2 linked regions of the Homo sapiens genome follow. The protein of the gene in region 2 purifies or fractionates together with the protein of the main gene of each other region. This does not show direct contact. Each region holds a gene or a part of one and is shown on either strand. Other genes may lie near its edges.

The links. The genes of interacting proteins can lie anywhere in the genome.
Region 1: the proteins of ACSBG2 (region 2) and CMSS1 purify together in Homo sapiens (affinity purification with mass spectrometry; 2 studies listed by BioGRID and IntAct, with this or other methods). This does not show direct contact.

The regions. Positions count from the first base shown.
Region 1 is NC_000003.12:100,170,862-100,177,861, reverse strand, and holds part of CMSS1 (protein CMSS1), read right to left. Parts: intron 6,024-7,000; coding exon 5,963-6,023; intron 5,547-5,962; coding exon 5,459-5,546; intron 1,536-5,458; coding exon 1,447-1,535; intron 1-1,446.
Region 2 is NC_000019.10:6,186,874-6,194,446, reverse strand, and holds the end of ACSBG2 (long-chain-fatty-acid--CoA ligase ACSBG2), read right to left. Parts: intron 7,165-7,573; coding exon 7,025-7,164; intron 6,849-7,024; coding exon 6,602-6,848; intron 3,864-6,601; coding exon 3,790-3,863; 3' UTR 3,755-3,789; intron 1,780-3,754; coding exon of another isoform or gene 1,751-1,779; 3' UTR 1,356-1,750; downstream 1-1,355. UniProt on the Homo sapiens protein: Catalyzes the conversion of fatty acids such as long chain and very long-chain fatty acids to their active form acyl-CoAs for both synthesis of cellular lipids, and degradation via beta-oxidation.

The DNA of each region.
Region 1 (7,000 bases), on a different chromosome or scaffold from region 2:
CTGGTGTGAGTCACTGTGCCTGGCCTATTATTATTATTGTTTTGTAGAGACAGGGTCTTGCTTTGTTGTCCAGGCGGGTCTCGAACTCCTGGCTTCAAGTAATCCTCCCACCTTGGCCTCCCAAAGCACTAGGATTACAGGTGTGCACTGCCATGCCTGGCAGAATTAAAATATTTATATAAATGAAGGAGGAGGTACTATATAAAACATTAGTTTCATTAAAGTGCCCTTTTGTTTGCAGCCATTCAAAATAAAATGCTATACAAAGGTGTTTCAAGGACTCCACAGTGTGCTTTCTGTAAACAAGATTATATACAATAGTTCAGTATAGGATTTTATTGCCTTAGGATAACTGCTGAGAATGACAGCAACAGAATAAAAATAACTATGGGTGACAAGATGTTTTTGGACATTTCTCATTATTAGAATTAGAAACTTAGTAGATTAGTCAAATTTAATATTATAACTGAAATAATCAACTATGGCCTCATGCCTGATATCAAATTTGTTAAACCAGTTTTAAGAAACCAGTCAAGTCAGGGGACAAAATGCACGACTGTGTATGTGTGTGTGCATGTGCGTGTGTGTAACTGAGCAAATTGTTTTTTAACCTGAACTGATGTCTGAAATAACTCACTGATCAATTATAATCAGGTTTGGTCAATCTGGAGATATAGCTTTATGTGATAAATTAATTCATTCAGCATGTTTGGAAGAGTATTTCCAAGCCTCTTTGATAGTTACTGCCATGATTTGTTCTTGGTTAGTGACTGGTAATCATTTTTTTTCCTAACAGCTACTGTGAAGCATCAGGCTAGATTGAAAAATTAGCCCCATAATAGCGTGGTAGGTGGCAAAGTAATTTTTTCACATTATGATGATAATGGATTGTTTTTAAAAATATATAATGAGCTAATACTGTGCCCATAAATGCATTCGGTCATTCAATTCTGATCAACTGAGACATCAAAAAATTTCCCCACCCCATGAACCAAAATATCTTTCTAAATTAAGTAAGTGGGTTCTTGGGAATCCATGTGGAGATGCTGGCAGAGGCAAGTTTGTACCCCTGCTCCCCTAACCCGAGCCAAAAGTGCACATATAAGAATGAAAGATAAAGACGAGTGTGTCTACAAAGAAAGGCACAGGAGAAGTGCAGGTCCTTCAGATCTTCTTGTTTCTCAAAATGGTCCCTAGTGAGGAGAGGCCATTGGTCATTTAAGGAGCAACAGAGCTGATTCCCATGAAACACATGGAAAGGATACAATTATGTGTAAGGGGATGAGGTGGCCTCTATAATTATAGTTAGCTCAGAGTTAAAAAAGATAGAAATCATTTCAAAATCTAACATGTGCTGGCTCCTCATGTCAAAGACTTTATTACTGTGTTTGAACCAAGTTCAAATAGAGAAAAAATGATTAAAGGCAACTGCTGGTTACGTGGTACCTCGGGAATGTCCATCATTCTCCTCAACTTCTGATCTCTCCAGTTCCAGTCAAAAACCAGAAATTTTAAGGGGCTCAAATTAAGGCCACCTGAAAGAGACAGGAAGAGAGTTGCTGTAGTAAAGACCTCATGACATAAGCTTATTAAAATGATTTTTTATTCTCCGGGTTACTTTTTGTCTCATATGTTGTCCTCTCCCCCAGTAACTAATCTCCGCACATTAAGTGCTGCCCTTCCCTGATGGAAAACAAATGCAGCACTCTGAGACTTGCTCTTCTTATCATCTCATCACTCCTCCTGAGGAAAGCAGAGAAACTGCTCTTGCTAAGCTCCTCAAATGCTCACACGCTGGCCAGGCATCCATTTCATGAAGCCCCAGAGGCTATAGTCTCATTCCTGACAGGGATTTGCTAAGTTAAATCCCGCAGTTTGGGGTAGTTGCCTTTCAAAGGAGTTGAGTCCATGGAGTCTGCAGGGCTCTCAGGAGGTGAGTGGGGAGAAAGATGAGGACAGGGTTGGGTGGTTCCTTTTAGGCAGAAAAGGAAGTTGAGATGAATAGGCTCTATTCAGCTATCCTTCGATGAGGTTGGTAAATCACTTAATGACTCCATTCTCTGCTTTCCTGTTTGTCTAGAAGACAATTATGGACTGTGAGGGCTGAAGGGGACCTCAGGGAATGTGTAGTCCTCAGATGTCTCACAGTTGGGCATAGAGTCAGTTCTTGCCTCTGCTCCAAGCTGTTCCACGTCTCTTGTGTTAACAGTACCTGCAGCCTTCCTCTCCTGTGGCACTTCCCCTCAGCTTTTCCCTGTAGTATTTAAATATTTTCCTCTTTGCCCCTAATACTTGTTCATGCTTTTTATAATTCAAATGCCTGTTATTAAAAACTCTCTGCAAAATTAAAATAAAAATAGTGAACTGGAAAAGACAATGAGTTGATCATCAGTCTTCCCTTAATATAACTGCTCTCAGGAAAGCAAATAGGTACAGCCTCTCTGGAATGAAACTGAGCATAATATTATAACAGCTTCAAAATGCTTTTATTTGATCTCAAATTCCTGACCTCAAGTGATCTGCCCATCTCAGCATCCCAAAGTGCCGGGATTATAGGCATGAGCCACGGTGCCCAGCCAAAATGCTTTTATTTGATAAAATAAATTTCCTTCTATGACATATCCCAGTGAAGCATCAGAAACATAAACATAGCTACTTGCAAAAATGATCATTGCCACATTATTTATAATAGCAACAATTTAGAAACAACCCAAAGTCTACCATAATAGAATTGCAAAAAAATAAATTTACAATAGAATATTGTAAATAGTGTAGCTATACAAATGAAAAATTAAACGTGCTTCATGACAAGGAAGGTAAGTCCTCATGAGATATAGCAAGTGAAAAAGGTAGGTTATAAAGTTATGAGATGCAGTATAATCAATCTCTGTTGTATAAAAATAAACATACAAATTGTATAGAAAAAAGACTCAAAGGAAATACATTCATTATTAACAAGAGATTGCTTCTAAAGTGACTTGTTTTCTTCTCTGTACATTTTTGCATTTTCAAAGGCTCCTATAGTCAGAAAATCCCCTTCATTACTAAATTAAAACAACACAATTGCCTGTAATTGTATACATCCCAATGTCATGGGATATCTTTCAATGTCTGAAAACTCTCCTTATATATCAAACGTATAAACATCTTATTAAGTCATAAACAGCTACATATATGCTATTGGTGTCACTCTGTTAGATTTTTCACTTTTAGGGTGCTGGGACTATTCTCTTTAAACACTTTGTATGTAGGCAAATACCTGTGGTTAATGAATATGAAACCATTCATCCAATTAGAATCAGATGTAAAAATTATTTTCATTAATATTTTTTTAAAAATCGCCCTTTAAATGATTTTTCCATATGAAATAAGCCTTCATATTGAGGTCTCACAACTCTGTAGAGATCTGATTTCAATAGTCTGGATAGCTTTGCTTTTTCTCTTCCTCTCTTTCTTTTAAATACAGAGAAGAGTAATCCTGTTGCATGGGGTGGGGGCTGGGGAAGTCTGGTGACACACAAAAAAATCTGGATTCCAGGAGGGGCTGGTGGTGAATCTTTAGCTAAAAGCTGTTAGGGAGGCAGGAACCAACCTGAGAGTCCATCCTTAGCTTCTGATACCCAGCCAATTACTCCCAAATCTGTGTCTCATAGAAGGCCTTGGTGCCTCTCATCTGTTCCTTAACTTTCAAATGCCATAGGATGTCCACAAGACAAAAATCCAAACTCCTCAGCTTACTGTTCAAGGACTTTCCTCAAATTTCTTTCCAGTTACATCAGCTGCTACTAGAGCCCACGAAGTTTCCAAGCAAGAAAGTTGGTCTCTTTAATAAATAACTAATATTTGTTAAGTGTTTAGGGTGTGACACTTACTGTGCTGAGCTCTTTATTGGCATTTTGTTTTTATAACAAACCTCTAAGTAGCTACTATTACTATCCCTGTTGTTCGCACAAAGAAACAGGCTGAGAAGGGTTAAGTAACTTGCCAAGGTCACAGAGCTGGTAAGTTGCTAGACCTGGGATTTGAATCTGGAGGTCTGAGTCCATCACAGGGGCTCTTAACTGCAACATTGTTTTACCTCCTCATCAATTCCTTGTGATATACCATGTGCATGTGCCTGCTTTCTGAGAATCTCACTGGGCTGTTCTCCCATTCATGAATGCTTCCTCTGACCCTCCCGGCCTATTTCAATCCTCCCCACACTTCAAAGATCAGTTAAAGACCCTGCCCTGCAGATTCAGGCCAGCATAACTATCTCTTTCTCATTTCAACTCTTGTAGGACTTAGAAGTGCTCATTTGGCTCTTGGCATTTACTGCCTCATGCTATCGATCTCAGTCTATGTACACTTAGTTCTTCAGCTGGATCAGGAGCTCCTTGAGGGGAAAAGGCTCTAGAACCAGGAGAGCCTAGACTGACAGACCTTGGGGAGGGTGACTTAACCCTCTGAGCTTCAGTTCTCTCTCATAAAAAATAAAAAGGCTAGCCTGTAAGGATGCTGTGAGTGCTAAATGAGGTAACATATGTAAGGGTGTCAAGCGTAGCGCTGCGTACAAGTAGGAACTCGAAAGTGTTGTTTCCCTTCCTTGTCAGGGGCAGCCAAATTTGTTAGTTGTTGGTATTTGTACAAAACTCTGCATATAGTGGGTTCAACTAACCCTGGATGATTTTCATCTGGAGAGAAACAACAGTAGTTTTAGCTTTTGTTGCTCCCTGGCAAATGACCATCTCTATAATGAGTTACTACACTGATGAACACATTACTTTTAGATATATAAAATAATCTGAGAATAGCTCCAGACAGTTATTTAAAAAAAAAGCTCTATTATATAATACATAAGTAATTTGGAAATAAGTATTGAAAAGAAATCATTCAATCTGCCTGGTAGGTAGAAGAGGTAATAAGATAATTGGCAGGTTAGCAGGTTCTTAGGCTACTGGCTTTGAGAAAGTTGGCAAACTATAAAAACCCACCAGTGGATGTTGTCTAGAATACTTTCTGTAAAGCACTAAAAGAGAAACACATTTGGGAAGAACTATTATGGAATGCCTGCATTACATTCATGGAAACTACGTTTTTTGTTTTAGTATGTTTTATATACCAGCCCTCAAAATGGGAGTCTCCCCAAGACTCAGTGGAGTGACAGGGAACTGCTCAACTCAAGCAGTGGCTGCACACTGGTGGAATGAAGGCTATGTGGAACCACTAACCTGCTTATAGCAGCTGGAATTTGACTCTGTTTAGGTGGGCACACGTACTTCAGTTTGCCACAGTCCTTATCATTCCCTATTGTGCTATACTTGCTGGTTGGTTTCAGAGATTAAAGGCTGAGTTTCCAATTCCTGAATTAACACAGAGGTCTGGTTTTTGTATATCCTGAATTTAGTTTCTGAGACTCACATGTAGGTAAGGCAAACTCCCAGCCCTGGGCAAGAGTATCACTGCCCTCTTGTCATACCTTGTTTAACAAGTTCTTTAATTCTCCCCGGAGTTCCTACACCCAGGTGCACCACACGCTTCTCCAGCAACTTTACCTGCGCCTGGACCTGTTCCAAGATGAAAGAGAAGAAAGAAAAGGAAGTCATTAAGAAAGTGCTATCTTACACCAATTTAGAACATTTTATCTCAAAGTTAAGAAAGTGAAATACAAATGGAGCTACCCTTGTGTAGGGTCGACTTCCAGGGCAGAGATGAGCATATCCCTAGAAAACTGGTAATCTTCAAGGAATCAAAGGGTCAAGCCTCAGGTTCTATACAGGGACAGAGCATGGCAGTAGCGACTGCCATACTGGGGAGGTAGGTATGCAGAAGCATAGAATTTAAAAAACCAGAAAAGTTGTTAAATGTTACATAAGGAAGGAACTCAATAAAATATGTGCTAAGGAGATTAGGAGAAGAGGTTGAAAGGAAAAAAGCTGAGGTCTGGGAGAGGCCTTTAGGGATCACACAGGCCCTTGCTTACCTTTATGTGCTTTGCAAATAATTTTATAACTTTGCCGTCTCCTCTGAATGCTGTCATCGACCTAATGAAAAGAAGCAGGTGAATGCTTAAGAAAACCAACTCATTCTAGGCCACGATGACTACTTAAGTATTATGTCTTGCTTTATTCAAAGGATGTGTGCATACGTGTGTATATATGTGCATATGTACATACAAATTCTGAGATTTGCAGGTTAGCCAATCTTTGCAATGAGAGTGGGGTGGCCTTTTATTCAGGCACATATCTGGGTTGGCTTTACACTGCCATACACAAGGTCAACCTTACTTAGGCTTCCTTGATTACTGAAACACATGACCTGCCTTTCATTTGTAATACAGAATTCCTGTATTTCAGGTCCCTGGCAGAAAATTCATCTTCCAACTATGCAGTGCAGTTCTCATACAAAATTTGGTTGCAAAAGATATCTTGGAGCGGTGATGTCAGCTCGTTCTCTGTGGAGCCAAGGGCATCTACAAAGGTCTGCCTGTGGTGGCCATGAGGGAAGCCAGGAGATGAGCTTGAAAGGGGGAAGAGGGGGGGCTTCTATCCTTCTATCACAGCTGTCCTTTCTTATCTACTTTGTAGACTAAATTCCTCTATAAAATTTTATAGGTGGAAATGAAGCTTCAGCCAAAAAGCAGGAAAAGAAGGAAGGAAGGAAGGGAAAGAGGAAGCAAAGAAGGAAGGAAAAAAAGTAAGAAGAAACCACTGACACAAAGGACTGGCTGAATTAAAGCTATGAGGGCAGGGGGTTATTGTAAATGAGGTGATCTGGGAAGCAGGGGTGAAGACTGAGGGGCACTTGAGAGTGATGCCCCCCGTAAAGGGGTCAACTAGTGCTCAGCTTTGCCAGTTATGATGATGTGAGACTATGGGCCTAAGACTCTCTGATTTTTAGAGAAGCCAGAAATCTAGATTTTTATATGTGCAATCTGATTTTAAATATGGGCAAGTCACTCACAAATTTTTTAGGTGCCAAACACTTGTAGGGTAAACTTAGCCTTTGAGTTGTCACTTTA
Region 2 (7,573 bases):
CCTCAGAAAGGGCACTGTTTACAGTGTGAGAGCTGAAACAGGAAGCCAGAGTGTTGCCTTGTTCAACCTCAGCTGGGAATGTACAGTTGGCCACTCAAATTTTTCACTCCTGTGTATGTCCTGGAATGACCTCTAAAGTGCCATAACTATTGATTTGGGGTTTACAAGCAAATTCTAGCGATGAGGCAAATTTGCAAATATGGAATTGGCAGATAGTGAGGACCAACTGTACTAACTCATTAAAAAGTAAAAGCCCGCCAAATAGTTGAGGAGGGCCATTGATGTGGTTTGGATATTTGTCCCTGCCCAAATCTCATGTTGCACTGTAATCCCCTGTGCTGGAGGTGGGGCCTGGTGGAGGTGTTTGGGTCATGGCAGGGGGGCGGATCCCTCATGGCTTGGGGCTGTCTTCACGATAGTGTGTTCTCAAAAGATCTGGTCATTTAAAAATGTGTGGCACTCCCTCTGGCTTGCAACTGCTTTCGCCATGCGACATGCCTGCTCCCCTTTTGCCCTCCGCTATGATTGTGAGCTCCCTGAGGCTTCACCAGAAGCTGAACAGGCACCAGCACCATACTTTCTATAAAGCCTGTAGAACCATGAGCTAATTAATTAAACCTCTTTTCTTTATAAATGACCCCATCTCAGGTATTTCTTTATAACAGTGCAATAATGGCCTAGTACAGCAATCAAATATGACATTAGCCTTATCGGCATTGCATTAATTTTTTTTTTTTGCAAGGAGAATGTCATTTTAAATTTCTGGTGTATTTAAAAAATGGAACTCAAAAGGGTCTCTGGCCTGCCTCTGAGTATCTAGAAGCTTAAGAGACACTGGGAGTTTTGTTGCTCCTGATATGCTGTTTCTGTCCAGGCTGGGAGATGTTCCCTCTCCCACTCTCCCTACTAATATTTCGGAGACACACTATGAATATGCTTTATCAGCTCTGGTCTGCTTATAATATGACTGTTGGATGGGAGAGGAATAAACTATCTTCTTTAAGTTTACTTAACTTACTACAACAGAAAACTCCTCCCTAATGACGGAATTAGTCAAGAGTCATACCTTGACTCTTGAGTTAACCAAGAGTGACTGTGTTGATGATAACCATTAACTCAAACCGAGGACTTTCTGGAGTTAGATACTGCATTCCCTGTACATCATCTCCATGAACTTCCATGGCCACCCTCCGAGATGGGGATCTACTTTCCAGGTTTAAAATCTCCGAGCCTCAGACAGTTGAAATCACAGCTGGTCACAATTTGAACCCAGAACTGATTTCAGAGTCCAAGCCCTCCCCATCACACTAAATAAAGGACAAAGTATTTCTATCAAGCCAAAAATCAAGACATGGGACCCTGAAGTGCTTTATTATCAGGACTTATTGGAAGGGTTTCCCAGTTGCTTCCAGGCAGGTGAGTTGATTTGGGGGTCCAGTTCTTCAAATCTGTGAGGCTTTTTCTTTCTAATGTCTGAGTCCCCTGAGGAGAAAAAAATCAAATGGGAGCCCACAAGTTCAGGTCTTTCTTGTAAATCAGGCAGTTTTTAGTAGACTTCCCAATAGGCTTCCCTGGAGTCATGACTTGAAGGTCCTTAGAAAGATATACAGTGATTTTATTGCTTTGAAACGTATGGCAGGTTCTTCTAGGGAGCACCTCTCCAACAGACGAACAATCAAGAAACTGACCAATGAGGAATGTGGCTTCTTAAAAACAGCAGGGAGAGCTTCTACCTAGAGCAGCATTTCACTTATTGCAATGAGGTCTTCCTGCTGAAGGCTGCAAAGAGGAGAAACACAAGTTATCACATGGGGATTCTCGTAATATGTGCATTCAGTCTCCAAGATCCCACAGTCACCATATGATGAAAATATTCCCGAGTGAATCGATCCATTTATAAATTGGCTGTCACCCAAAATCTCCCCACAATGAACTTTAGAGTGGCACTATCCACAAGAAACATTACTGGAGCCACCTATGCAATTTAACAATGTATAGCAGCTACATTTTTAAAAAAGGAACTTGGCCAGGCACAGTGGCTCACACTTGTAATCACAGCACTTTGTGAAGCTGAAGCAGGAGGATCGCTTGAGGCCAGGAGTTTGAGACCAACCTGGGCAACATAGAAATACCTCATCTCTACAAAAACATTTAAAACATTAGGTATGAATGCACCACTGCACTCTAGCCTGAGCAACAGAGCAAGACCCTGTCTCTAAAAAGTAAATAAAAATTTAAAACTGGTAAAATTACTTTTAATAATAAATATTTTACGTAACCCGGTATTCCAAAATATCATCTCAACATGTAATCAAAATTTTAAAATACTGATGAGATATTGTATATTCTATTTTTTTTTTTTTTTTTTTTTTTTTGGTGCTGTGCTTTTGAAGCCCAGTGTGTTTTATGTATTACAGCACATCTTGGTTTGGACAGACCACATAGTGGCCAGTGGCTGCCATATTGGACAGCACTGGTGTAAGAGGGTCCATCTCTCACTCCCACATCAATGTCCAATGGTTTCTCATTCAACTGGAAAGTGAAATTGGAAATCTTGTGAAAGATGAAGAATTATGAATGTGGTACGTTGAACTGCTGGGCCCACCCACAAGACATCAACAAATGAAGGTGTGGAAGGGTTAAACCAGTTAACGTTGAACAAAGGACAATGGATATGATGAGTTACAAGCTGAGTTGTATCCCTCCACAATTCACATGTTGAAGTCCTAACCTTTAGTACTTCAGGGTGTAACTTATTTGGAAACTAGATCATTATAGAAGTTAAAACGAGGTCATAAGGGTGGGCCCTAATCTTACTAACCTGTCCCTATAAAAGGGAAATTTGAACACAGTGACACCCAGAGGGAAGATGATGTGAAGACAGAGAGAGAAGACAGCCATCAGCAAGCCAAGGAGAGAAGTCTGGAATGGATCCTCCCCTCACAGCCCTCAGAAGGAACCAAGCCAGCCAGCCTCTCAATCTCACACTTTTAGCCTCCAGATCTGTGAGACAATAAGTTTATGTTGTTTAAGCCCTCCAGTCTGTGGTACTTTGTAATGTAGCCCCAGCAAACTAAAACATGGGTTGGCTGGTGGCATTAGAACAAGTTGCCCATGAAAAGGTTACAGGCAGCCTATAGGACAATTGAAGATGCATTCTACTTTCTGCCTGCACTGTGCATCTAGTGAAGAAAAAAAAAAAAAACACCTCAATAACTATCAGTGATTCATGGTGTCATGGAGGCTCCCTCTGCACATGTCTTGGGGAAAAGAGAGGATAAACGGTGGATAGTGGAAGTTCAAGCCTCCATCCCTTATTATCTGTGTAATGGGCCAACACACCTCATTCCTTGAGTTCCTGGCAAGTAGAACTTTCTCCACTAAAGTTTCTGACAAAGGCCTTCTCCAAATAAGACCCAATGAGACATTTGGGATTCATTGCCTCCTACTTTCTAGAAACAAATAGAAAAGGCAGGAAGCACAGCTAACAACATTGGTGGCCAGCTGAAGGAGTTTACACACCCTACCATGACCCTGGTAGAGTAGAGACAGCATGAGTTGAAGCCTGCTACTCAGAATCCACTGCAACTAAGAGTGTGTGTGTGTGTGTGTGTGTGTGTGTGTGTGTGTGTGTATGTATGTGTGTATGTGTGTGTTTTCTGCAGTTCCAGTCACAGATCTGCCTGCCACACAGTGGAGCCCTCTCTTGGACTCTGAATGCATAGCCCAGCAAAGCCAAGCAACTGAATCTCACCATCAGAACAGCTGAGAGCAGCTCCATCAAAGCAGTCAGTGGTACATGTGATCAATTTGTTTTTTGTATTTCTGGGCTACAAAATGTCTCTTAAGTTTCATCATTGGACCTATCGAGAAAGGAGAAATCAATTGAGTTGTGGAGATAAAAGAAAATTACACACACCCATGCATGACCAGGCAACAGAGTCCCATGCCTGGGGCTAGGCTGGGTGGCTGGCTGTGCCATTGACTTTCAGGGTGTGTAACTTTTGCCATCTGTATGGGGATGATAAAACTTCCATGTGATCCTTCAGCTGTGGTGAGGATTCTGTGAGCTGGAAGGTGAAGAGCATGGTGCATTCTGTGCCTGATGTGGACTGTGCACCCAATGGAGGAGGGATATCATCATCTCAAACCATACCCCTATCCCCATTTTACAGGTGAGGAAACTGGGGCATAGAGAGGACCAGTTCCTCTGAGGTCAGCCAGCAAGTGCACGGCAGAATCAAGTCTCAAACTGGGAGTTGTCTGCTCCCTGAGCCCAGGACTTTCATTGAAAGCCTCTGAGTCACCAGGGGCATTGAAGCCCCTCTGGGTGTCTCAAGCAACCCCACAAGGACTGTGTTTTCAACTTATAGATGAGAAGACCACCAGCCTGGACAACATGGCAAAACACCATCTCTACAAAACAAAAAGAGGATAGCGGCCAGGCACGGTGGCTCACGCCTGTAATCCCAGCACTTTGGGAGGCCAAGGCGGGTTGATCACGAGGTCAAGAGATCAAGACCATCCTGGCCAAAATGGTGAAACCCTGTCTCTACTAAAAATACAAAAAATTAGCTGGACGTGGTGGCACGCACCTGTAGTCCCAGCTACTCGGGAGGCTGAGGCAGGAAAATCGCTTGAACCTGGGAAGTGGAGGTTGCAGTGAGCCGAGATTGCGCCACTGCACTCCAGCCTGGCGACAGAGTAAAACTCCGTCTCAAAAAAAAAAAAGAAAGAAAGAAAGAAAGAAAATAGCCACGCATGGTGGCGCGCACTCATCCCAGCTACTCAGGAGGCTGAGGTGGGAGGATCGCTTGAGCCTGGGAGTTCAAGGCTGCAGCAGCAAGCTGTGATTGTGCCATCGTACTCCAACCTGGGTAACAGAGCAAGACTCTGTCTCAAAACAAACAAAAAAAAAACAAGACTCAGTGGGACAAGTCACTTCCCTGTGTAGAGGGGACAGGATTTGAACCCAGGTTGTTCATTGCCACATACTTGCTCTGATTCTTCCATCCACACCGTCAGATTACAGCCGAGCGCTGACAGCAAACTCGCAAATGAAAGTACATTAGTAGAATCCAGTATCCCCACTCTGGAGTGAGCCCTTCCCTCATGGGGGAAGAGAGGCAAAAATAAAACATACAGAGACTAATTTCATGTTCTGATGCTTTAAAGAAGACAGGGTGGTATAATGGGGGTGGCAGCAAGCTACTGGGTGAAATATTAAGGACGATGGCAAGCCACTTTAGCCAGCATGGTCAGGGAGGGCTGAAACCATCCCTGAAAACTTTATAATATTAATCAGAGAAGAAGGGAGGGGGACAAACTAAAATCAGCCACACTTACAGCACACTCAACATTCATCATTAGGTCAGTTTGCTCTCTAACCCCTTCCTCATAGCTAGCTGTTTGCCTATTGCCCCAGAATCACACACACACAAAAAACCCAATCACAAGATATAGTTCCCCTTAACTGCTCTACAGATAACATATTAAGCATTGTGAAAGGTCAAGTTTTCCATCTGAGATATCCTTTCAAGTCCTGCATACCAGTGAAACTACTGATGCCCACTGATCTGAAGGACCCCACGGGAGCTGACTTACCAAAGAATGCAGCTTCCACATCCGATGATTTCATCCCCTTTACCTCAACCAATCAATGACTCTAATTTTCCAGCCCTTCACCCCCAAAGATCCCCTTAAAACCCCAGCCCAGAATTCCTCAAAGAGAGATTTGAGGGTTCCTTCCATCTCGGTTGGCTTCCCTGCAAGGGAATTTAATTTCCTTTTTTATTTTTGTTTGTTTGTTTTTTGTTTTTGAGACAGGGTCTCACTGCATTGCCTAGGCTGGAGTGCACTGGCATGATTGTGGCTCACTGCAGCCTTGACCTCCCTGGGCTCAAGCGATCCTCTCAGTCTCCTGAGTAGCTGGGCACCGCTACCATACCCAGCTAATTTTTGTATTTTGTGTAGAGTTAGGATTTCACCATGTTGCCCAGGTTGGTCTCAAACTCCTGGGCTCAAGCAGTCTGCCCAACTCAGCCTCCCAAAGTGTTGGGATTACAGGCGTGAGCCACTGTGCCTGGCCATAATTAAACTCTGTCTTTGCTGCATCCCCTGCTGTCTCAGTGTATTGGTATATTACTGTGCAGTGGGCATACAAACCTGGGGGTCCTGTAACAAGGCTGCTCTGAGGGGGAAGAGGCCTGTAGGGTGAGACCTGGACAATGAGAAGAAGCCATCCAGGCAAGGAATTGAGGGGGAAGGGTATTCCCAGGGAGGCAGACTGGCAGGTGCAAAGGCCCTATAGTTGGACAAAGCCCAGAGAGCTGCAGGAACATCAAGAAAGCCCATAGAGTTGGTGCAGAGTGAATGAAAGGTCAGCAGGCGAGAGATTGTATAGAGCTATAGTAAGGAGGTTGGATTTTATTTCCAAGATGAGGAGCTGGGGACCAGTTAGCTGAAGGTGGCAGCCTCCCTCTCCTGGTCCCTGGCTGGTTTCATAGACCCTCTGACCTTCAGAAAAGGACCTGTCTCTTCAGAGCCCACACAGTCCCAGATGCTAACAAGGGACCAGCCTCCAAATGTCATGGCCACTCACCTAGCTCTCCACCATAGATGGAAAAGTCCTTCTCCAAGATGACCCACTTTTCAATCCTCTGTGCATTGTTCATGGCTTCCTGGTTCACAGCATTGATGCCTTGCTGGATGGCCTTGTAGACCAGGGGGTCTTGCTGCTTCACAATCTCAGTCACGGTGGATGCCTGGCTGCCCAGACCCCGACAGAAGTTGATGGCCTCGAAGTTCAGCTTGTCCAGAGGTTCTCCGCTCATCTGATTCATCTCACACTGCCCCCAGACACCTCTGTCACCACCCATGCTCCTTGACCAGCACCCCTCCCCAGGCCCACAGACCAAGAAGTGGGTCTTGAACCCACAGATGCATCCTCTTGACCCTGGGGTGGGGCCAGGGAACCCAAGACCGGCTGCAGAGACTTCCCCCAATGACAGCAAACCCATGTTACCTTCAGCGTCAGCAACATGCTCAGAAACTTCAGTTTATCTCCTACTAACATGGCGTTACTGATGATGGGGATCTTCTTCTTAACCAAGGTCTCAACAGGAATGGGGGGCACATTTTCACCACCAGCAGTGATAAGGATTTCTGGAACAGAGCTTGGCTTGGTACATGTCCAGCCATGACAACGTGGAACCCCCAGTTTGAGACCAGCCTGGCCAACATGGTGAAACCCCGTCTCTACTAAATATACAAAAATTAGCCAGGTTTGGTGGTGTGCACCTGTAATCCCAGCTACTCGGGAGGTTGAGGCAGGAGAATCACTTGAACCTGGGAGGCGGAGGTTGCAGTGAGCTGAGATCATGCCACCGCACTCCAACCTGGGCAACAAGAGTGAAACACCATCTCAAAAAAAAAAAAAAAAAAACCTAGTGGCCAGGCACAGTGGCTCACACCTGTAATCCTGCCACTTTGGGAGGCTGAGGTGGGCAGATCACTTGAGCCCACAAGTGCTAGACCAACCTGGGCAACACAGTGAAATTGGGTCTCTGCAAAA